4 linked regions of the Homo sapiens genome follow. The protein of the gene in region 2 interacts with the protein of the main gene of each other region in a pairwise test. Each region holds a gene or a part of one and is shown on either strand. Other genes may lie near its edges.

What was found. The genes of interacting proteins can lie anywhere in the genome.
Region 1: the proteins of MAGOHB (region 2) and KRT75 interact in binary tests that used the Homo sapiens proteins (3 or more experiments, as listed by UniProt).
Region 3: the proteins of MAGOHB (region 2) and ZNF835 interact in binary tests that used the Homo sapiens proteins (3 or more experiments, as listed by UniProt).
Region 4: the proteins of MAGOHB (region 2) and ZBTB10 interact in binary tests that used the Homo sapiens proteins (3 or more experiments, as listed by UniProt).

Annotation. Positions count from the first base shown.
Region 1 is NC_000012.12:52,431,572-52,435,795, reverse strand, and holds the start of KRT75 (keratin, type II cytoskeletal 75), read left to right. Parts: upstream 1-1,424; 5' UTR 1,425-1,491; coding exon 1,492-1,989; intron 1,990-2,543; coding exon 2,544-2,758; intron 2,759-3,729; coding exon 3,730-3,790; intron 3,791-4,157; coding exon 4,158-4,224.
Region 2 is NC_000012.12:10,607,152-10,610,609, forward strand, and holds part of MAGOHB (protein mago nashi homolog 2), read right to left. Parts: intron 2,791-3,458; coding exon 2,680-2,790; intron 2,233-2,679; exon of another isoform or gene 1,947-2,232; intron 786-1,946; coding exon 703-785; intron 1-702. UniProt on the Homo sapiens protein: Required for pre-mRNA splicing as component of the spliceosome. Plays a redundant role with MAGOH in the exon junction complex and in the nonsense-mediated decay (NMD) pathway.
Region 3 is NC_000019.10:56,661,758-56,665,257, forward strand, and holds the end of ZNF835 (zinc finger protein 835), read right to left. Parts: intron 3,489-3,500; 5' UTR 3,442-3,488; coding exon 1,828-3,441; 3' UTR 223-1,827; downstream 1-222. UniProt on the Homo sapiens protein: May be involved in transcriptional regulation.
Region 4 is NC_000008.11:80,520,726-80,524,225, forward strand, and holds part of ZBTB10 (zinc finger and BTB domain-containing protein 10), read left to right. Parts: 3' UTR 1-3,500. UniProt on the Homo sapiens protein: May be involved in transcriptional regulation.

The DNA of each region.
Region 1 (4,224 bases), about 42 Mb from region 2:
CTGAGCCCAGGAGGTGGCGGTTGCAGTGAGCCGAGATTGAGCTGCTGCACTCCAGCCTGGGTGACAGAGTGAGACCCTGTCTCAAGGCAGAAAAAAAAAGAAGATTCAGCAATGTTTTGGTTTGACTCTTCCCATGGTAGAGATGGGGCAATGAGTTGCAGAACAGAGAGATGAGGTGCCTTGAAGTCTTCTTTGCGGTTTGTAGACTAATATAGAATGTAGGGCACAGTCTACAAGGTTAACAGGAGAAACAGGGAAGGAACGAATCCTCTGCTAGGTGCAGCTGTTGGAGCTCTTTTGATGAAGGACTGGAGAGCTAGGAATTCTTGGTCCTCAGGAGGAGGAGGAAACTGCCTGGGAGACTTCTGGGATAGGCAGCCTCAAATGCAGCTTGGAGGTGATGATTCATGGTACACCATCTTGTACAGTTTTATCTTCCCAACAGGACCATGAGCTTGTTGAAGATAAATAATGTGCATTGTGTTTCTTTTGAATTCCCACAGGACTAGTCACAGGATGGACATGGTTGGCACTTCCTTAATATTACTTGATTGTATCAGAAAGAGGGGAGCCTCAATAGACATTTACTCAGCACTTACATATACCGGGCATTGCGAAAGTTTTCACATGTGAATATTCATTACAAACCCCATTTTACAGACATGAAAGTTGAGGCACAGAAAAGTTTCATGGCTTGCTCAAGGTCCCACAACTATGAGCAGGTCTGAGATTCAAACCCGAGTCTTTCTCCTCTCACAACCTCTCTTCCCAGGAGACAGAGCACTGGCTGGCCTTGAGAGTCACATTATATTGCAGTGGGCAGGGCACAGGCACACATACACTCCAGAAAACCATGTGTGACCTACACAATAGACACGGAAGCTTAAGAGCAGAATAAAGGGGCAATCAAAATGGGGTGGATTCCTAAGGAAGATGATTACAGAGCGCGACCTTCAAGGTTTGGAAAGACAGCTTGATGGGGCTTGGGGAACCAGGCAGTAGGTGCTGAGAAAATGCTTAGGGAATAGGAAGCACCCCAAGGAAACAGTGAAGTGTAGTGGCTTGTATTAACACAAGATGTTTGGACAGGACGGAGTTGGTCCCAGGCCTAAGAAAGCGGTTTAGAAATGAGGCAGTGTTTGCTGAGTCCTTTACAAGATGCATCATTAGCACATGACGGAAAGCAATTAACTTGCTTCTTACTCATATGCTGATCAAGTTGCAACTGGAAAGGAGTTTGCACGTTGTGGGGAGGGGGTGCCAGGGAACCAGCCAGTGGCCCTTACACCATTTCCCGAGGGATGCCGAGTGTGAGCTCAGGGTTGGCGGATGCCCAGGGAATGCCATCAGAAGGCCCTCTCCACTAGCAGTGCCCCGCCCCCACAGGATGCTCATAAAAGCCACGAGACCAGGGCTCTCCAGCCACCTGTCTTCTCCACTGCCTGTACCAGCCCACCTCAGGTGCCTTCTCGCCGGCCTTCCTCACCCACCATGTCTCGGCAGTCCTCCATCACCTTCCAGTCTGGCAGCCGCAGGGGCTTCAGCACCACCTCGGCCATCACCCCGGCAGCTGGCCGCTCCCGCTTCAGCTCTGTCTCTGTGGCCCGCTCTGCAGCAGGGAGTGGGGGCCTGGGAAGGATCAGCAGTGCTGGGGCCAGCTTTGGAAGCCGCAGCCTCTACAACCTGGGGGGTGCCAAGCGGGTCTCCATCAATGGGTGTGGCAGCAGCTGCCGAAGTGGCTTTGGTGGCAGGGCCAGCAACAGGTTTGGAGTCAACAGTGGATTTGGCTATGGGGGTGGAGTTGGAGGAGGCTTCAGTGGCCCCAGCTTCCCCGTGTGTCCCCCTGGAGGCATCCAAGAGGTCACTGTCAACCAGAGTCTCCTGACTCCTCTTCACCTGCAAATCGACCCCACCATCCAGCGGGTGCGGGCCGAGGAGCGCGAGCAGATCAAGACCCTCAACAATAAGTTCGCCTCCTTCATCGACAAGGTAAGCAGGGGCTTCATCCACCCCCTTGGGTTTGGGATCAAATAAACTCTTGGAAGGGCCATCCCATGGGGGGAGAGCAATAATGCAATGACCCCACTGTGGGAATGAGCACTGTTCAGCACGGGCTCCCAGGGGCTGAGACCCTTCCAAGTCAGGCCAGCTTGCCCCACAGGACCTGGTAGAAATTTCCTCTCTTTCGGAGCCACATGGGCTGGTTCAGTCAACACCAAGGGAAGAGTTTTGTTGATTCTCTACAGGAGAGTTGCTGCTCAGCAAACTACCCTAACCCAGAGTAGGTGGTGTTGAGAAACTTAACCCAAGAGCAGCTCCCCAACAGAAGCCTCTAGGCCCCACCACCCGAATCCTATGCAAGCCCTAGGGAACTTTGCGGTAGCTCCATGGACTGCCTCCTTTTGGGTTGGAGTTGTCAGTTACATTATTGTCAATGGGTGCCAAGTGAAAAAAATATCTTTTTCTTCTCTCCCTTATTAATAGGAGTGTCTAACTCTGCCTCTCCAACTTCTCAAGGTTTCATTCTCTCTTCTTCCCTCCAGGTGAGGTTCTTGGAGCAGCAGAACAAGGTCCTGGAGACCAAGTGGGCCCTCCTGCAGGAGCAGGGCTCCAGGACTGTGAGGCAGAACCTAGAGCCCCTCTTTGATTCCTATACCAGTGAGCTCCGACGGCAGCTGGAAAGCATCACCACCGAGAGGGGCAGGCTTGAAGCTGAACTGAGGAACATGCAGGATGTTGTGGAAGATTTCAAAGTCAGGTAAGTGGGAGACTGGCTTCTGGCCACACACAGCCATCTGAAGGCTCCTTTGTGTGAGGACCAGAGAGGTGCAAAGGAGCAAATGCCGATATCAGCCGGGAGCTTTGGAACTGCAGCCTTTATCCTGCAAGGTGGAGACAGCACTGTGTGGGGTAGCACAAGGACCTTCATCTTGTGTATTGCTATGAAGATCCTATTCCTATTTGTTCACATGACTGCAAAGGGATATCAACATCATCCGACAAAATATTGCTACTCACTCTAGAAATCATAATGTAATTTCACAGTCAGCATATTGTTTAATTCCATTGGACATGGGCTCAATTATTGAGATGGTTTGCATTTCCAGGATGGCATTCACTGTAGAGTGAAGAGAGGTAACAAGGAAGAGTTTAAAGGAGGGCAATCTGACTTTTCTTGTGGGGGGAAACTTTTGACTGCACATCATCCAGGCTGCAGTAGGTGAGGTATCCAGTGGAAAGGGATTTGGTCCAGACTAACCCATTAGCCAGCTTGCCCTTATTTCTAAGCTTGAGCTACCCCTAGTTACAAAAAGCATATTTCTCAGGGGCCACCCTGAGGTTCAGTGAAAATATATCAAAATCTACCCGAAACAGCCTGCTGAACAGATAAAGTTTACTCCACGATTTCGGTAGACACTTGAGGTGGAAAAACATTTTAGATTAGCATTGCATATCTATCAAAAGATGGAGTTGCATAAGTATATTTTTGTATTCCTTTAAGTTCCATGCTCACCTTCTACTCTTAGAAAAGTTTATTAAAAACTAGCAGAAGAAATTATCCCCCTTTTATGGAGGGAGAAATAGAGGTTAAATGAATCACCCAAAGTCATGCCCAGGTCAGCAGAAGAGCTGGAAATGATTTGAGGGCTCTTAACTCTTGCTACACCAGCCTGGAAAGAGTTCAATGCAGACTTGCTCAACAGCACACCCCCCGCTCTGTCCTTATAGGTACGAAGATGAAATTAACAAGCGCACAGCTGCTGAGAATGAATTTGTAGCCCTGAAAAAGGTGAGTGGGGATGTTTCTCTCAAAGGAGAAGGTTTAAAATGGAATCTGGAGTGTGGGGTAACCTGACCTCTGACCCTTGGGCCACCCAAGAAATGTCACATCAACCTTGAGAATATCTGCAGAGTTCAAACCTCCCAACATGTTCCCTCTACGTTGATGGCCCCATTAGCCCTACTTGGGTTTCTGTGAGCTCAGGGAATTCAAGCCCCCAGTTCTCCGTAATTACCCATCCCCAACCCCAAATCACCCAGACCCAGAGTTTTCTAAAATCCAAACTAGATGGGCTGGGGAGAAATCTGCTCAGCTTCTTTTGGACTAGATACTTGGGGCTGCAGACTCAAAGGAGCATCCTGCGCTGTCATTCCAGGACGTAGATGCTGCCTATATGAACAAGGTGGAGCTGGAAGCCAAGGTCAAATCTCTGCCCGAGGAGA
Region 2 (3,458 bases):
TTCTCCTTTCCACTAACAAATATTTATTGAAAGCATCTATTATGTGCAGGGCACTATGCTAACTCTGTGGATACAGCAAGGTTCTCAAGGAGCTTACATTCAAACCAGTAAAGCAGACAAATAGGTTATTACAATTCAGGGTGACAGAAAAAAGTAAGAGCACTATGGGGACACTTTGAGGGGAATGGGCACAAATAAAAATAAGTGGCTAGGATCAGACCAAGAAAATGGGATGTGCTACAAAACCCTGGGGCAGAGGAGAGACAGATCTTGGGAAGACATCGATAGCTAAAGCATACTTAGGCCATAATGGATTTTTTCCATCTTTTTCCCAAGTATTGAGCCCAAGAAGGACAGTGAGATGATATAGGCCTAATGAGGCTGACATAATCCAATAAGGATTTCTTTCCTTTGGATTTGCTGATACTGTATCCACATTTTTATACAAAGTAGCTAATACAACTTGGGCATTATTATATACAGCTGTTGGATTAAAAGTTTTTGGACAATCAATGAAATACTCTGCTAACTTCTACTGAGAGACAAGATAATAAGCCTTTAATGACATAAAAATCAGGATTACATCTGCATAATAAACTGATAGGATGCCACTGAAATTATCTTGGCTAGCAAACTGACTATAGTTCTAAAATGAGCCTCTGTAATAATGAAAACTTCGCCAAAATGCTTTAACATACTTACTTTGACTGATTTACATCAATAAGAGAACCTATTTTTGATGTGGTAAAAGATATGTGCTCATCTCCAATTACAATTTCAAGCTCCTAAAAAATATAGCAGAAAAATGTAGTTAATATAAAAATCTATCCCAGAGGTATCTGTATTCTTGCTACAAGCAGATCCCAATTTTAGTTGCAAGTTTTCTAGCAGCCAACAGAGGGAGTGGGGGGCGAGGGGGAAAGAAACATGGTTTCTTAGATATAAACTATATCCTTAAAATAAAGACTGCTCACGCGCACTACCCCCAAGTTTAGGACCAACAAAGAATTGCTTTCCAGAGACATAAAGAAGACACTATGAAACAAAATGACAAAGAAATATTTCTTACAATGTCAGTAAAAACTAAAGACATCACTTTGAAGCACATGTTGTAAAAATGATTGGAGTATAAGACCATTTTTAATATGATAAATACACATTTTTTCTTTCTGGAAGATTCTACAAATAAAATGTGTAATATTAATAACCACCACCACTTTAGCACCTACTGTATGTCAGGCCCTAGTGGTAGGGACTTTGTACTCTCTGTAATCTTGAAAATAACCTTACTAACCTATTTTACAAATGTGTAATCCAAAACTCATAGAGCAGAAGAAAATACTTGTTGATATTTATAACCACTAATAATGATGGTACTTATATTTGATCCCAAGATGGTAAGACTTCAAAACTAATACTCCACAAAATAACTAAAATTAAGAACTAGTAAAAAAAAAAAAAAAAAACCAACCTAATGTAGATGTTCCTAGTGTGCTGTAATTACTGTATAGATTTTTCCCTATATTGTTTATCTGCAGGCCTAAAACCAATAATTAAAAAGCTATATCTGTAATGAATCTTCAAGTTAACAGACACTATTGAAGACAATCCTAGCTATTTATTTAATCAGAGGCCTAATTATGCAGTTTATGACACACACAGAATGGAGAATTAGCTAAGATGCTCTAACAGCCATAAAACCTTTGACTTGATACAAAAGGCAATTTCTGAAGCATGCCTACTCCTCCCCACTAACCAAAACCCATGAACACATCCTTAAGTGAATAGATAAAATACTAGGCTCTCCCTGAGTCTAAATGATATAAAAGGTTAGCTGCTGTGGTTTGCTTTTTAGTACATATGTGTATCTGCATAAAACAAACTGAGGCCTAAATTTACTTTTTAAAAGTGATACGATGCTTAAAATAAATACTGTTAACTATTACCTTTGCTTTTCTAAATAATGCTTCTTTAAGCAGAAGACTTAAGTTACTCCTACAGAGTGTCAGCATGTGTTAGATTTCTCCACATTTTCTTCTATTCAAAGAAGGTGATACAAAGTACAATCCTCAGGGATATACAAAAGTGAAATTAAATGTTTCTTCCTTCCAGGGGTTGTTGAAGGAATTTCTCCAAGAGTTGAAAAGACCCAATTCAGAAACCAAACTTTCTTTTTACAGAGTGAAATTAGGCCTTCAGAGTTCTTCAGAAGCCTGAGAAACATCATTTATTCTGAAGGAATATGAGAGGGAAATGCAATCATCAGTTTTAACAAAGAAACCACCAATCAAGTTTCTCTCTGGGGTATAGGGATGCAAGTAAGAATTTTAGAAGTTATGATTTGGCAAAAATAAATTTTACATAGTCATATTCTTAATAAAAGTGATTAACACACAACAGAAATTATTCATAACACTGCATTGTGAAAACATCCTAACGTTGGCTGGGGTGACTACAGAGAAAGATGTCTAAATTTAGAGCTATGCACTGACTCCTTCACTACTAGGAGGTAGCACAGAAAAACAGAACTAAGAGATAAAATTAAAGAGAATTTACCAGGTGCCTATTAAATAGAAAGCCAAAGAATCAACTTAGACTCATTCCAAATAAATAACGGGAAACAAAATAGTATTATCAATTTTTAATATTTATACACTTAAAGAATCACTAAATACAAACCTGTCGGCCAACCCTATCAGGGGGAGGCCACAAAGCATCATCTTCTTTTGTAATTTCACTGTCATCAATAATTCTCTTCAGTTCTTCCATTACACTCTTGTGCACATAAGCCTAAAAATTAATCATAATAAAATGAGATAATGCCCACCTATGTCACCCCTCAACTCAGAAAGAAATGAGTTACAAACCCTGAATATCCAAATAGAGGAATATAGAAAAATTTAATTGATTCCAAAAGTAGAGGAGACAGAATCACTTATCCTTGTTACACTGCTTTTCTTCATCTCTTGCCCTTTCCTTTCACATACATTTTTTCCCTCTTCTCATCATTACCTGTCTTTCAAACACTGTATTCTGCCTTTGCAACACTGAGATCCAAATACCCACAAGTGGTTAACTTGTGTCATCACAAGATCTATAAGGTGAACTGTAATAAATGCAAGTATACTGAGGCAGGAGAATCGCTTGAGCCTGGGAGGCAGAGGTTGCAGTGAGCTGAGATCAAGCCACTGCACTCCAGCTTGGGTAACAGAGCGAGACTCTGTCCCTAAATCAATAAATCAATAAATGCAAGTGTAGTTCACGTCAAGGTTAGTTCTCTGAACTTTCTCATTCCTATGGATGCAAACACTGTATCTAATTTAAATGGAAACTCTTTCAATCTATAAATTGCCTTCTTCTTTACAATATAGCCTTAGATGTACTTTTTTAAATTCAACACAGACTTGAAGAAAATGGGCTAAATGCAAAAAAAAAAAAAAAAAAAAAAAAGACATTCA
Region 3 (3,500 bases), on a different chromosome or scaffold from region 2:
TACCATTTGTGAAGAAAGGTGTACTATATATCTTTCCAGAATATTCTATGCATATAAATATTCATATATATGCTTACATATAGTAAGCATTTGCTTCTAGTGAGGGGGACTTGGTAGCTGGGAGACACAGGAGTAAGAACAGTTTTTTTTTTTAACTTTATAAATTGTGGACTACATGAGTGTATTCCCCCATAAAATAATTTTCCAATGATTATAGTCATGTGAAGTTATGAGATTATAACTTTAATTCAACATTGTAGTAGGTGGATTACGTTCATAACTCCTACTTTTCACCCTTCCCTGGGACCACATGCTTAGGAAGGCTCTTCCTGTGCTGATCCTAGGCTTGGCTAGGAGGCTTGCTTTGGCCTGTGGGACTAGATGCAAATGTGACAATATCAGAGACTTGAAAGCATGCCTGTGTGTCCACTCCCTCTCAGACTCCTGCCACCTCCCTGAGAACACACCCAGGTGAGATGTGAGTCAGGAGAAGAAGATCAAATTGGCCCAGCTGAGCCCTCCTGGTCCAGGTCCAGACCAAGCCTGGTCCAGACCAACAGAACCAGCAGCTGACCTCCAGATGCATGAGAAATAGTAAATGGATAAATGAGGGCTGGATGGTTTGTTACACAGCAAGAGCTGACTGATACAAGCATTAAAGTCAGGTCTTTGAGTTAGGGGGAAAAATGGTGGAGATGGGTAGGTGTTTCCTCATACTGAAAAAAAGACTAGGCCCACTCTAAAAATCTTTTGTAGAGGAGAAGCACTCCCTTCTTCTAGAATAACTTTCAGCTCTAGATTTCTCCTGCTCATTTTCTCTAAGCACTATTTCTATCTTAGTGAATCCAGATTTCTTCTTCAGACTCTGCTCCTTTAGTAAATATGCCAACTTGGCCAAAGAAACCAAACCTTTTATTCACTTTAATTCAATTAAATTTACTGAGCAAGGGCTTACTCAATAAAATCAACAATGAAAAGGCCAGCTGGCCAGGCACCGTAGCTCAGGCCTGTAGTCCCAGCACTTTGGGATGCCAAGGCAGGCAGATCGCCTGATGTTAGGAGTTCGAGACAGCCTGGCCAACATGGTGAAACCCTGCCTCTACTAAAAATACAAAAATTAGGCTGGGCGCGGTGGCTCATGCCTGTAATCCCAGCACTTTGGGAGGCCGAGGCGGGTGGATAACGAAGTCAGGAGATCGAGACCATCCTAGCCAACATGGTGAAACCCCGCCTCTACTAAAATACAAAAAAACTAGTCCGGGTGTGGTGGCCGGGCGCCTGTAGTCCCAGCTACTCGGGAGGCTGAGGTAGGGGAATCACTTGAACCCGGGAGGCGGAGGTTGCAGTGAGCCGAGATTGCATCACTGCACTCCAGCCTGGGCGACAGAGCAAGACTCCGTCTCAGAAAAAAAAAAAAAAAAAAATTAGCCAGACTCCTGTAATTTTAACTACTCGGGAGGTTGAGGCAGGAGAATCACTTGTACCCGGGAGGCAGAAGTTTCAGTGAGCCGAGATCGCTCCACTGCACTCTAGCCTGGGTGACAGAGAGAGACACTGTCTCAAAGAAAAAAAGAAAGAAATTAAAGGCCAGCCATAGGTGTTTCTGCAGGTCTACTTGCCCGTGCCCCATTTATAATTTTGCACCAGGAAGACCGCAGGGGAGTCTGGCAGATGTGAGGTACAGTCTTAGCCCTGTGTCTTCCCCACTGTGTGCCCTCAGGCAAGTTAACAAGCTTCTCTGAGCCTCGGTTTCCTCACAGGAAGCGTCGGGGATAACACAGTATCTCCCCCATAGCATTGTGAGGTTGGAAAGGAGGCCCTCAGCTCTTAATCTTCTGCTGGTCCACGCGGGTTTCTGCCAGGGCACCCCTGTTGACAGGTTTCTCCTCCCTGTGAGAGCCCAGGTGTTGAGTCAGGCGTGGGAGCTGGGCAAAGGCGTCCCGAACTGTCTGCATGCGTCCTCTGGTGTCGGATGAGCGCGGAGGAGAAGCTGAAGGCCTTCCCGCAGCCGCTGCACTCGTAGGGCTTCTCCCCGGTGTGCACGATGTGGTGCTGGATCAGGTAGGAGCGGTTGCTGAAGGCCTTGCCGCACTCGGGGCAGGTGTAGGGCCGCTCGCCCGTGTGCGTGCGCTGGTGCAGGGCGAGCGAGGAGCCCTGGCTGAAAGCTTTGCCGCACTCGCCGCACTTGTAGGGCCGCTCTCCGGTGTGGATCTTCTGGTGCTCTATAAGCGAGGACACGTGGCTGAAGGCGGCCCCGCATTGCAGGCACCTGTAGGGCCGCTCACCGGTGTGCACGAGGCGGTGCTGGAGGAGGTGGGAGCGGTTGCTGAAGCGCTTGCCGCAGTCGTGGCAGGGGTAAGGCCGCTCTCCGGTGTGCGTGCGCTGGTGCTGCGTCAGGTGCGACACCTGGGTGAAGGCCTTGGCGCACTGGCCGCACGCGTAGGGCTTCTCGCCTGTGTGGATGCGCCGGTGCTCGGCCAGAGAGGCGCTCTGGCTGAAGAGCGCGCCGCAGTCCTGGCACGTGTAGGGCTTCTCGCCCGTGTGCACGCGCCGGTGCTGGGTCAGGTGCGCGATCTGCGCGAAGGCCTTGGCGCACTGGCCGCAGCGGTAGGGCTTCTCCTCCGTGTGGATGCGCTGGTGGCGGATGAGCGCTGAGGAGAAGCGGAAGGCCTTGGCGCACGCGGAGCACTCGTAGGGCTTCTCACCGGTGTGGATGCGCTGGTGCTCTATCAGGGACGAGCGGTTGCGGAACGCCTTGGCGCACTGGGCGCACGCGTAGGGCCGCTCGCCCGTGTGCACGCGCCGGTGCTGGGTCAGGTGCGTGACGCGCGTGAAGGCCTTGCCGCAGTCGGCGCAGCGGTGCGGCTTCTCGCCCGTGTGCGTGCGCCAGTGGGACGCCAGGTACGAGCCCTGGCTGAAGGCCTTGCCGCACTCGTGGCAGGCGTAGGGCTTCTCGCCCGTGTGCGTGCGCTGGTGCAGGGTCAGGTGCACGCTCTGGCTGAAGGCCTTGCCGCACTCGGGGCACGCAAATGGCTTCTCCCCGGTGTGGATTCTCTGGTGTAAGATGAACGCTGAACAGTAGCTGAAGGCCTTCCCGCAGTCCCCGCATTTCCACGGCTTCTTGGGGCCTCCACCTCTCTCCCGCTGGCGGCTGTCAGGATGCCTCTCCTTCGGGCTCTCCCCAGGCGCGCTGCACCTCCGGGAACTGCTGTCGTCGGGGACACTGGCTTGGGTAGCAGCAGGGCTCGATATGGTTCTTGGGATTCGGCTGAATTCATCGCGTTCCTGCATGCTGTCCCCAGCAGGGTCTCCCTTGCAGGCCACGGCCTCTGGCTCTGGACAGCTTTCCTGGTTTTCCTGCAGGTCCTCAACCTGGCCCTCGTGTTTCCAGTTTCCTTCCAACTCTGCGCCCTGGAGGGCGACGCTCAAGAGTCCCTCCATCCTCGATCCCTGGGCTGCTGTCTTGATCTCACATCTTTTCTCTGGGTCTGAAAAGAAAA
Region 4 (3,500 bases), on a different chromosome or scaffold from region 2:
CCATGATTCAACAGTCTCAAAAATCTTACAAATAAAATTCTGAGAAGCTTTATTATTCTATAAATTCTTCAGGGTACAAAGGGTGACATATTGAGGTGAAATTGTCAGATTTACTTAGCCTGGTGACATGAATTAGCTGATTGTGGAACTCTCAGCAGCATTTCACGTATTGTTAACATGTATGGCATTTATTAGCATATTGTATATTATATAAGATTGAGGGATGTCATATTTTCAGCTTTCTTTTAAATAAAAATTGAGTATATTTTCCTATTTTATATCAGGTAACTAAATTATGCTAGTTATGTGGAAAAAATTGCAAAGATGCTTTGACAGATATAATCCCTTTGGTGCTCCATCTGATCAAAGTTGAAAAGTTGATGTTTTTTAAGAGACAAGCTTTATCATTGTCTCTGATTTCAGTAGAATAATGGTTTATTGTTAGACAATGATGTTTCTGCTTGGATAAATCAAAGATAAATTACAGTTACATGGTTAGATGCATCTTTTGTCATCTATATTGTAGTTTCTACATAACTGTAAACCTGACAGATAAGAATAGTTTCGGTTTGATTTTTGTTTAAAACAGATGAGTACTTCTTAATGTTCTAGACAAATGAGTAAAATGTATTTCTGGTAGAAATTAGTTGGGCAAAGATACTATGAATGAAAAAGTATTTTAAACGTAAAATGTTCTTTGTGAATATGTAAGTATAGTATAAAGATTTCTTTCATCCCATTTATCCCCTTCCTTTAAATAAACTAGTTTACAATTGGTAGATCTGTCTATATATAAATATATATTAAAGAACAAAGATATATATCTAAAAATCACCTAAATCTGCTTTATTAGACTACAGTTCACTTATTGCATAGAAACTGGACTTGGCTTTACATTCTTAATGTACTTTTACTTTTCCTCAAGATATGAACTTACTCTCTTGAAGCTGAATTTTCTTTTACTACTTAAATCATTTATGTATATCTGGTAAATTATGACCAAATTTTTGTTAGATTGCATACAGTAAATTGAAATACACACTTGGTACACTACGGGATTGTTGTGCTTTTGTTTGGTTTTAGTTGGAAATAAGGTTTGATGTAGATGGCTTGTTACTGTTAATTTAAAATATTCTATAATTGTCCATTACTTTATGTTGTGTTGTGACAGATTTGGCTATATTTTTAGTCAATTGAAATATGATACTTTAAAAGTTTGTTTTTAGGTAATCCAAAGGAAAAGTGTTTATACTCTTGAATATATTAGCCTCAGCCTATATAAAAATTTCTTTGAAGTAAACATTTTACCGGAAACAGAATTGACAGATTTTTCTACTTGCTGACTGCCTAACTTATTTTGTTTCATGATCTCGAGGGACTGCCTTTTCCCATCTAGATCTTTTAAAAAAATAGTTTTAGTACTAAGGTATACTACTGGACATTTCTATTTTTTTAAGTGTATTCTTTTTCTGACTTACAGTAAAATTTCAGGAAGTTGATAGATACTAAGAACTTATGATTGGTCTCAGAGGTAACAATGAAATACTCATAATTTTGTCTGTGGAACTCTGGCAGAATTATGTTACACATTTGGCGAAGTTGTCTCTTGTAATTTATATTTTAAATGAAAAAGTATTTTAGAGCTTTTAATGAAGGGGAAGAGTATAAACTTTCTTTCATATTCACTCTGTAGTTACAGACCGTCTCATAAATCAAGATTGTGCATTATTAGAGTTCTCAGAGACAGATACTTCCATATGGACCCCTGTTCATTTTTCTTATTTACTAGATATTTTGCTAAATTTAGCACACTAGCAATTAAGAGTTTAAAAAAGAAGAAACGTTATAGGAAAGGGAAACTGAACAGTAATGAGTAGCTTTGAAATTGGGGAAAACACACTAGCTGGGTTAGGTACAGCTATCCTAATGGAGAAGAGTGAGCTAAATGCGTTAATTCATGTAAAGTGCTTAGAACACTGGTACATAATAGGTGCATAACACATCTTAAAGTTGTTTAATAATAGATAAGAACCAAGAGGAAAAAGAAATAAGAAAAGATGGGGGAAAGGAAGGAGAAAATAGGAAATGAAAGGATTAGGACTTGGGCATTTATATTAATACAAAATGGTGTAAACGGCCTGAATATCACTGTAGTAGTATCATACGGGGGAAAGTGTGATGGAAAATAGGTTTAAAAATCTTAATTTTTAAAACTTTAGTAAGCTTTATTTATATTTTTTAGGATTTTCTGAACATAGCATGAAGGGTTTAGATTCATTTTTCTGAAAAACGATTAAAAAAACTACCAATTTTTTTTTTGAGTGCCCACACTTGCCGTTGTGCTGTATACATGATTTTACCTTAATCCTCTATAAGGTAGGTGCTAATTGTCTCCATTTTATAGATGAGGAAAGGCTCAGAGAAATTCAGAAACTTGGCTAATTTAACACAGCTGTGACAGAGCTCGAATTTGACCACGTCTGATTCTGAAGCCCATACTCTTTCAGGGAGGCTCTATTGCTGCCTCATTAAACAACTCTTGTAGAATTTCAGCTCTTAATGGAGTCTATGGATTATATTTTTCCTATAAGACAGCTGTGTTTAGAATTTTGAGTGTCTTTCCTCCCCCCAATAAATTTCCTTACTACTCTTTCTTCATAAAGCAGTTGTTTTGTCACTTTGACTATATTAAGACACATCAGTGTAGCACATGCTCTTAACTGGCTGTGGCATTTTAATTTTATAAAAGAATGGTTTTTATCTGAAGAACTAGATAGAAACCCCAGTTTTTGTGCCGTTCAGTCACCCAGATCCTTAAACTTAACTATGGTACATAATATCCACACTTAGAACTAACAGGTGTTTAGTCACTTTAGGACTTAAAATGGAAAGTTTTTTTTTTTTTCCTGCTGTATCTCTGCTTTCAACTGAAGTTAAAGAATTCTAGATAGTTTAAAATGTGTTAGGGATAAGCACACTTCAAAAGATGTTTTCTAGCCCTAAATTTTATGACATTGGGTACTTAAATTTGGAGTACACTAGCTATTGAGAACAATATTTTGGGTTGAGGAGAGATGGTTGAGGCCATTATTTAGTGGGAGCATTGGCATTTTGAACACTGTAAACAAAAGAACACTTCCGCCTGCTGTTTGTAAAAGCTCTTTGGGAAGATCTTTTACGAAGACCAACTTTTTAAAATGTAAATTACCTACCTAATATAAGTGTCCTAAGACATGTATGTAAACTTCCGGAACTGTTTTGTCTGTGTATTTAGAAAATACACAAGAATCTTTATTCAAACCTAAAAATATAAACTTGTGAGCACTAAACTGCTTCTGGCTTTGTGAATTTTATTGACTGACATTTAATTCAGATTTCTTTGCAAGTGTACTAATTTAGACTAATTGGGGTAAGGGGAACACCTTAATGAACTTTGACTTATGTATAATTCAGATATCTTTGTACTTAAGGCTTACAAGTTTGAATTATGGAATACTATA